Linked DNA regions of Homo sapiens. The protein of the gene in region 2 interacts with the protein of the main gene of each other region in a biochemical or structural test. Each region holds a gene or a part of one and is shown on either strand. Other genes may lie near its edges.

What was found.
Region 1: the proteins of TOX2 (region 2) and MFHAS1 form a complex in vitro, tested with the Homo sapiens proteins (one large-scale study listed by BioGRID and IntAct).

The regions. Positions count from the first base shown.
Region 1 is NC_000008.11:8,890,542-8,894,938, forward strand, and holds the start of MFHAS1 (malignant fibrous histiocytoma-amplified sequence 1), read right to left. Parts: upstream 3,090-4,397; 5' UTR 2,518-3,089; coding exon 1-2,517. UniProt on the Homo sapiens protein: Probable GTP-binding protein. Functions in innate immunity and more specifically the inflammatory response as a regulator of the Toll-like receptor TLR2 and TLR4 signaling pathways.
Region 2 is NC_000020.11:44,054,204-44,058,029, forward strand, and holds part of TOX2 (TOX high mobility group box family member 2), read left to right. Parts: intron 1-95; coding exon 96-323; intron 324-3,826. UniProt on the Homo sapiens protein: Putative transcriptional activator involved in the hypothalamo-pituitary-gonadal system.

The DNA.
Region 1 (4,397 bases), on a different chromosome or scaffold from region 2:
CTTGCCCTTGGGTTTATTGAGGCAGTAACAGAGTCCCATCTTCTCCAGCAGCTCCAGCAACAGCTGCAAGTCCTGCTGGGCCTGGACATGAGGCTTAAGCAGCAACCGAATGACATGAGCTGGCAAGAGCCCATGCAACAGAAAGCCCTCCACATACTGATGGAGCTGGGTGGCCCGGAGCAGTTCCTGGCTGGGGGTGGACCGCGCCATGGGCGGGGAGCTTTCCCCCTCCGCCTTGCCCTCTCCACTGGTCCCTAGGAGCAGCTTATGCAGCAGCAAAGAGGGATCCCTCTGGAAGAAGACATTGAGGATGTCGATGAGGCGGGTGAGGTTGTGGAAGACGTGCTCCTTGAGAGCCGGACTGTCCTCAAAGTAGAGTAGCTTGCCGCTCTCATGCAGGTAGGAGAGGGCACTCTGCAGTCGGTCCTCGGTCAGACCCGCCTGCAGGCCCAAGCGCGCCGAGTCCCACCAGCTTAGCCACAGTCGCTGGGCCTGAGGTGGCTGGAAATGCAGTTCCTCCAGCACCTGCCAGGATCGAGGCAGTACTCTGTGTAAGTTGGGGAAGATCTCTCGGTGCTCAGCAACTGACAGCAACTTGTCCCGAAGGCGTCGTAAGTGGCGCGGGTCCCTGCAGCTAACAGGCAACACGGGGGAGAGGATCTGCAGCCGGTGGTTGAGCAGGTATTGAAAATGGGCCTTGCGCCGTCGAAGGTTCTTGTCCGAAACGCCATAGTAGGCTGCGTGGGGGCTGGCAGAGCGCAGCTCGAAGTCCCGGGCCAGTGCCTCGTCCACCACCTTGGCCAAGCGGCTCAGTCCCTCCGCGTCGTGCTTCTCCTGCAGGGCGATCTGGCGGTGAATGTCCAGACATTTCTCCTCCAGCTCACGCTCTCCGCACAGGTCTGCGTGGGTGCCCACGATGCACACCACCGCGTGGGGCACTCTCGCCCCGACCCGATGCAAGAAGGAGCCCACGGTGGTAGGAAAGTGGCGAGGCTCATAGGTGGCCAAGTTGACCACCAGCACGTATAGGGCCCCTGGGGACAGGAAGAAGGGCTGGATCACCTCATAACTTTCATCCCCAGCTAAGTCATACACGATGAACCGCAGGCCCCGGGAGGCATCGGCCGTCCAGCTGGTCACCTCGATGCCCTTGCTCACAGGGGGAGGTGACGGTGGGTAGCACTTCTCCTTGTCCCCTCCTCCTGGGCATCCCTCCACTCTCTCCTCGGTGAGGCAGTGGCGCAGCAAAGTCTTTCCTGCAGCCTTATGCCCCATCAGGAGCAGCTTGAGCCGGGGCTGCACCGCCGGCTGGGAATGAGCCAGTTCCTTCTGGTAGGCTGCGATGTAGGGGATCCCCTTCATGCAGACCTCGTAGGGGGGCTGGATCAGTGGGTTGTCTTTGATCTTCCACAAACCCACCCGGGAGAGCTGGCCAAAGTGGTCGGGCAGCACCGCGATCTGGTTCCCCTGCAGCACGAGCTCCTCCAGGCCGGTCAGCTCCACGATGGAGTCCGGCAGGTAGCGGATGCGGTTATTATCCAGCCACAAGGTGAGAAGCCGGCCCAGGCCCGAGATAAGGGATGGCACCGAGGTGAGCTGGTTGCGACTAAGGTAGAGCTCCTCCAGACCAGCCAGGGGCAGCAGCGCGGCAGGGAACTCCTCGAAGAGGTTGGAGGAGAGGTTGAGCATTTTGAGCCGCTGCAGGCAGCTGAACTGGGCGGGCAGAGCCTGCAGCCCGTTGTTGTCTAGCATGAGGCTCTCCAAACTGGCCAGCTCGCAGAAGCCGGCGGGCAGCGTGCCAAGCTCGGCCCCACTCAGCCAGAGGATCTTGAGGGCACGCAGGGCACTGATATCCTCAGGCAGGCCCCGCAGCCGGTTGCTGGACACGTCCAGCTCCTCCAGGGCCACCAGCTGCAGCAGCTGCCGGGGGAAGGCAGTGAGCTGGTTGTGATCCACGTCCAGGGTGCGCAGGCGGGAGAGGCAGGAGAGGGAGTCAGGCAGGTGCGCCAGCCGGTTAAAGCTGACATCCAGCTCCTCCAGGTGAGCGAGAGCGCCCAGCTGGGCGGGCAGGGCGGGCAGCTGGTTGTGGCTGAGGTTGAGCTTCCGCAGCTCCCTCAGAGCACTCACCACCTCCGCGCCCAGGGCGGTCAGCCGGTTGTGGCTCACGTCCAGCTCGGTGAGGTGGTGGCCGAGCTCGGCCACCGCCGGGGGCAGCCGGGCGAAGCGGTTCCTGCGCAGGACCAGGACGCGCAGGCTGCCCAGCGCCGACCCCAGCCCCTCGGGTACCTCCTCCAGGCCGTTGTTCCCCAGGTTCAGTGCCTCAATGTCCCCGAGGTTGGCCGGCAGCACGAGCTGGGGGGAGGCGGGGGACTCGAGCGCGTCGGCCCCGGCCCCGGGGCAGGCCCCGGCGGCGGTAAGCGTGAGCTGGCGCAGGTTGCTCCGCAGCTTCCTGGCACGCAGGGCGGCGTCCCGCCACAGCCTCGCGGTCTTCAGGTTGCCACTGTCCATCCCAGCCATGGCGGGGCCCCGGGCCGACAGCCTCACGCGGACGCGGGAGCCCGCAGCTACATGCCGCGCCGCGCCCCGGGCCCTCCGGCTCCTGCCCCTGCCTGCCCTCCCGCGCTCGGCGGCCGGCGGCCGCGGGTCCTAGCGCAGCCAGCGGCCGAGCGCTGGCGGCTAGGGGGCGGCGGCGACGCGAGCGGCTCCGGGGGACGCCGAGCGCGTGGAGAGCAGCTTGCATTCTCCCTGCGGCCGGGCCATGGGCGCGCCGGGCAGCAGGGCCGCCGCCCGCGCGCCGCGGAGGATGCCTGCTCCTCCTCCCTCTCCGCCCGCCGCGCGGCGCCTCGGGGGGCCCGGCTCCGGCCCCGCTACCCTCGCAGCCGCGGTCCCGCGGCCGGCAGCGGCGTCGCCTCCTCGAGCTCCTGGGGGAGGGCGGCGCTCGGCCCGGCGGCGGGCATGCTGCGGGCGCAGGGCTGGGGCGCAGCCGCGGGGAGGGGGCGGCGGCGCCTCCTTGTCTCCGTTTCCCCGGGCTCGGGCGGGAGCGCGGGCGCCGCGTCCCCGGCGCTGGGAGGGCGCGATTGGGAAGCGGCAGCGCCGCCCGCCGGAGCGGCCCCCACGTGACCGGCGGAGGCGCCGCGTTTTCCCGGCACCGCCCCGGGGGCGGGAGCTGCGGAGGGCGCCGGGTGCGGGGCCGGGGGCGCCTGGCGCGGGGCCGGGTCCGCGCCCCGGACCATGCTGGGCGGGGAGGTCGTCCCAGCGGCGGATGTGGGGCTCCGGGGCCCCCCTGGTGGGTTCGCCCGCGCCTGGCTCTTTGTTGGCCCCCAGTCTCTAAGGATTTCTTTTTCTTGTTCTCTAATGCGTCGGATCCGCCGGCTTCCCTTACTCATCCTTTACCTGCTCCCCTGCCGCTCGCCTTGCATCCACGCCGTAGTGGAACTGGCACAACTCGGGGGCCCTGGGTATCATCATAGAAGCTTAGGACAAGAGTGTGGTTAAACAAAATTAGAACAGGCAACCATTCATTCATTTGGTAAATATTTCCTGAGGCCCTATTTCGTGTTGAACATGGGACAGGAGTAATGCAGGCTGGTCAGAGGAGAATAAAAAATACCAGGCAGCAGTTTCACTTGACTGGAGGCTATGGGCTGATAAGACCCTGAAAACCAGGGTGTGTACCAAGCTGGCTAAGACCGGCTGGACCCGACGTGGTCCTGGATTTGACCTAGGTTTCTCCTAGGCCTCCATTATACGCTCTTTAACATCCTAAGTCACACCAGTGCCATGACAATTCCGGGGACACCCATATTTGAAGTAAAAATGGGTGGCACCACAGTCCCGAAAAATCTCCACACTTTTCCAGGAATTTTCATGAATATTTCACCCCTTGGTTAAAGAAACCCATAAAGGTAGCAGCCCCAAGCCCCGTTGTGAGTGACCCTCTCCACAATCCCTTTTCCTGGGTGTGTACTTTTCCCTTTGCAATAAATCTGCATATTGTCACTATTTTCTGAGTTGTCCTTGAACTCATTCTCTGGATGTGTCAAGAGCCTGGACATTGGCTGGGGTCAAGGTCGCACTGGCTTTAGAGGATCTCCCCCAGCCCACCCGTACCAGAACTACTAAAAGACGGTTTTAACCCCCCTGGGGAAGGCTTTTGAGCAGGTGGCCCGCCAGCCTAAAGGAGGGTTGTTAAGATGGGGGGGACACAAGCTGTTTATCTGGGGTATCCCGTTTATCTTCACAACAACGCTGTGAAACAAATACTGTATCCCCATTAATACAGTACCTGTTGTTCTGCGGACTCAAGAAAACAGCTATTTTGGGAAACAGTCACAGTCCATTGTTCAACTCTAATGCTTATTTTTATTGCTGTTAGGAAATGTTTCTTTGAGCTCACA
Region 2 (3,826 bases):
CTGGAGAAGTGCAGCTCGGCCCAAGTCTGTGTTGATCGCCTTTGGCAGGAGGCCCTTGGGCTTCTTTGGTTTTCTGACTCTTCTCACTCGGGCAGATCTCGGGAGAAAAGAGACCTTCAGCCGACCCAGGAAAAAAGGCCAAGAACCCGAAGAAGAAGAAAAAGAAGGACCCCAATGAGCCGCAGAAGCCTGTGTCGGCCTACGCACTCTTCTTCAGAGACACTCAGGCCGCCATCAAGGGTCAGAACCCCAGTGCCACTTTCGGTGACGTGTCCAAAATCGTGGCCTCCATGTGGGACAGCCTGGGAGAGGAACAGAAGCAGGTGAGCCTCCCTCTCTTTCTGGGCCATCCCCTGAGGCTTTGTGGTCCTGGAACCAAGGACACACTTTGAAGGTCTGAAACCAGGCCCAGCTCTGGAACTAGAGACTCTTACAGAGGTCTTTCCTGGGCTCAGGTTGCCCATCTGTAAACTGGGAAGCTAGCTGCCTTCCAATTCTACTAACCAACTGCATTTACTAGCAACTTAACCACTCTGAACCTCTGCTTCCCGCAACTTAACCATTCTGAACCTCTGCTTCCCCCTTGATAAAATGAGAACAAGCATCTCCATCCATCTTGTCCCACCAACCCTAAAAGTCTGGAGTCCAGGCCAGAGCTTCCTATCCCACTGACCATGTGCCTGTGGCCTCCTCTAAAGGCCTCCAGGGAGAATAGAGAGCAGAACTAGCTGGTAGGCAAATGGAGTTGCCAGCTGTGTGACCTCAGCCTGACCACCTAAACTCTCTGAGCCTCGGTTTTCATGTCTATTAAAACAGGGGTGCTGGCTACTCCTTCTCTGAGCTCACATCTGGGCTGGGCTTTCCCCCCGGTATGTCACTGAATCCTTACAACACCCTGTGGAGTAGCCATTGCTTTCCTGTTTGGTAGAGACACCAAGAGGTAAAGTGACTCACCCAGGGTCACCAGCGTGAATCAAGGTAGAGTCAGGATTTGAACTCACATCTGTAGAAGCAGGAGGCTCAACTGGGCTGTTGGCATGAGAGACATGAATCAAATAAGCAGATGAGTAAATGTAAAATTACAATTGTGATTGTGCCGTGTACCAGGAGGGTACATAGTTCATGAGAGTGGAAAGAGCAGGGACGGACATTGTCCCAGGGGTCAGGTCACCAGGTGAGACCTGAAGTGTGAGTTCTCTTTGGAGGAGGGGAAGTGTTCCAGACAGGGAGGCCTGGTAAGGAAGGAGGCTGGAAAAGCACAGGGGACTGAAAGGAGACCAGGATGGCCAGAGAGGAGACAATAAGAGTACCCATGGCAGAGACGGAGCTGGAAAGGAGGGCAGGGGCCAGACCACGCTGGGCTTTGCAGACCTTGGAAGTAGTCAGGCCCTGTTCTAAGAGGAGAGAAAACCAGTGAAGAGTTTTATGTAGAGGAGAGACTGGAACGGCAGCATAAGGCAGGTAAGAGTGGATGTGGAGGGTGCACAGTGATCCAGGTGGGGGAAGGTAGGGTCTGGAGCATCTTCCAGAATGGTTTAGGGTAGGGGACACAGAGCATGTCCTGGGAGCCTCCTTGCATCTGGCTTCCATTCTGAGTAAATGGAGATGCCAGTCACTGGATGGGAAATATGGGGAAAGTAGCAGGCTTGGGGCAGAGAGATGAATTACTGACTTATTTGAAACATCATCTTTACCGTATTCTAAAATTTTAGGTAATTTTGGAATATGTTATAATGCAGAGAGTTTATTTGGGAGATGATCCCCACCTCTGGTAGGGGAGTGGGGAAATGAGACAGGGAAAGGAGGGCAGCCAGGAAAGGGCACATTGTCCCAGGAGAATCCACCATGGGCAACTGGAGCACAATCCCGCTGGGAACTCAGGAGCCTGCTTAGAACGTGCCAGGCCTCAGGGTCATCCTGTCTGAGGGGCAAGGGTGCTGGGGTGGACACCAGCATTCCTTCAGAGCTGCTCCAGGGGACATTACTTCTGCAGCACCCCTGGCCTGCTACACATGCCAGGCTCCTGCCACCAGAGGGACCCTCAGGCAAAGGAATATAGCCGGTGGCAGCTGGAAGTAGAGCATGTTTGTAGGACAGGGGTAAGGACTGGGGGATATTGGCAGGGCACTGTGGCTTTTGCTATAGGGACGTCTGTCATTTTCACTTGTGTGTTTCGTTGGCAACCAATTCCCTTTCAAAAGACTTCAGGTTGTTTTTGTTTGGTGGGGGGATTTCCTTGCCGTTTTATACAGTCTGGGGAGACAGTGGTCTCAAGTCCTATGTCCCCGGGCACTCCCTCCACCGATGCTTTCTCTGACCTCATTCAGCGCAGCCCAGAGGCAAGCAAAGGTGGTTGAGAGTCCCAGCCCCTGTGTCGGTTTCATTTCTGCTTACCTGTCTGACGTTTTATTTCTAACCCAAGAACTTGGCATATATTTATTTCCATCCGATAATGGGCATTTCTCTCCTTTTACTTAATGCGTTCTTTTACTTAATGCGTTATAAATGGCTTGTTTCTCCCCATTTTCCTAGCAAATTGTTGAGTATAAAAAGTTAGGAATTTAATTTGTAACTGCCAAGCTTACTATTTATTTTATCATTTCTGATCATTTTTAATTCCTGAGTCTTCTAGGTTTAAAAAAAGTGTCTATAATTATACACATATTTATACATATGTATCTTTTACAAATGATAATTTTGTCTCCTTTGTTATTTGTTTTTTAAGAGACAGGGTGTCACTCTGTCACCCAGGCTAGAGGTCAGTGGCATGATCATAGCTCACTGCAGCCTTGAACTCCTGGGCTCAAGCAATTTTCCCAGCTCAGCTTCCCAAGTAGCTGGACTACAGGCGTGCCATGCATCACCATGCCCCACAAAATTTTTTCTTTTTTTTGGTATTTTGTAGAGACAGGGTCTTGCTGTGTTGCTCAGGCTGACAAACTCTTAGCCTCAAATGATCATCCCACCTTGGCCTCCCAAAGTGCTGGGATTAGAGGCATGAGCCACTATATCCAGCCATATCTCCTTATTTTGTCTCCTCACTTCTCAGATTTCTAATTCTGTTTTCTTTTCCCAGTTATGTTGACTAGGACTTCTAAAAAAGAGATGTTCAGCAATGGCGGGGATAGTGGTCTTCTTACTTTGCATTACCTCTCATGTTTCACTATTAAGCATAAGGCTGGATGTTAGCTTGTGTCAGTTTTTGAAATCACATTTAGAAATGTGACTTATATTCCTATTTTACTATTAATACACTAATAACCAAGAGAGGTAGTGAGAAAATAATAGGAAATAAAAAAACCTTGCCTATCCCCCAAAAGTTTCAAGCCTAGGTGATGGATAGGAAAGTTCTTTCAAATCATCAAAGAGCTAATAATTCCAAGACTTAGAAAAATAAGAAAACCTTCACAAGTCTTTATATACAATGTAACCTTGACACTAAAACATAATGAAGCTAACTGCATCATTTAATTTTGAATGTGTAATAAACAATACCAAAATTTAATGGCTTAAAACAATAATCATTTATTCAACTTATGATTCTGAGGGTCCATGAACTGTGCTGGGCTCAGCAGGATGGTTCTGCTGCTGCTCTTGGCTGGGCTCACCCATTTGCATCAGTGGTCAACTACAGTAAATTAGGCATCTCTGCTTCTGGGAGTTGGATGGCTGTCAGCTGGAGCAGTGGAGCCAAACTGGGCCATGTGTCTTTCATCATCCAGCAGACTAGCTCATGCTTATTCACATAGCAAGTCAGAGTTCCAAGAGCAGTTTTAGAGCAGAAAAATGGCAGGAAGGAGGCAGGACTAACTTGCAGCTCCCACTC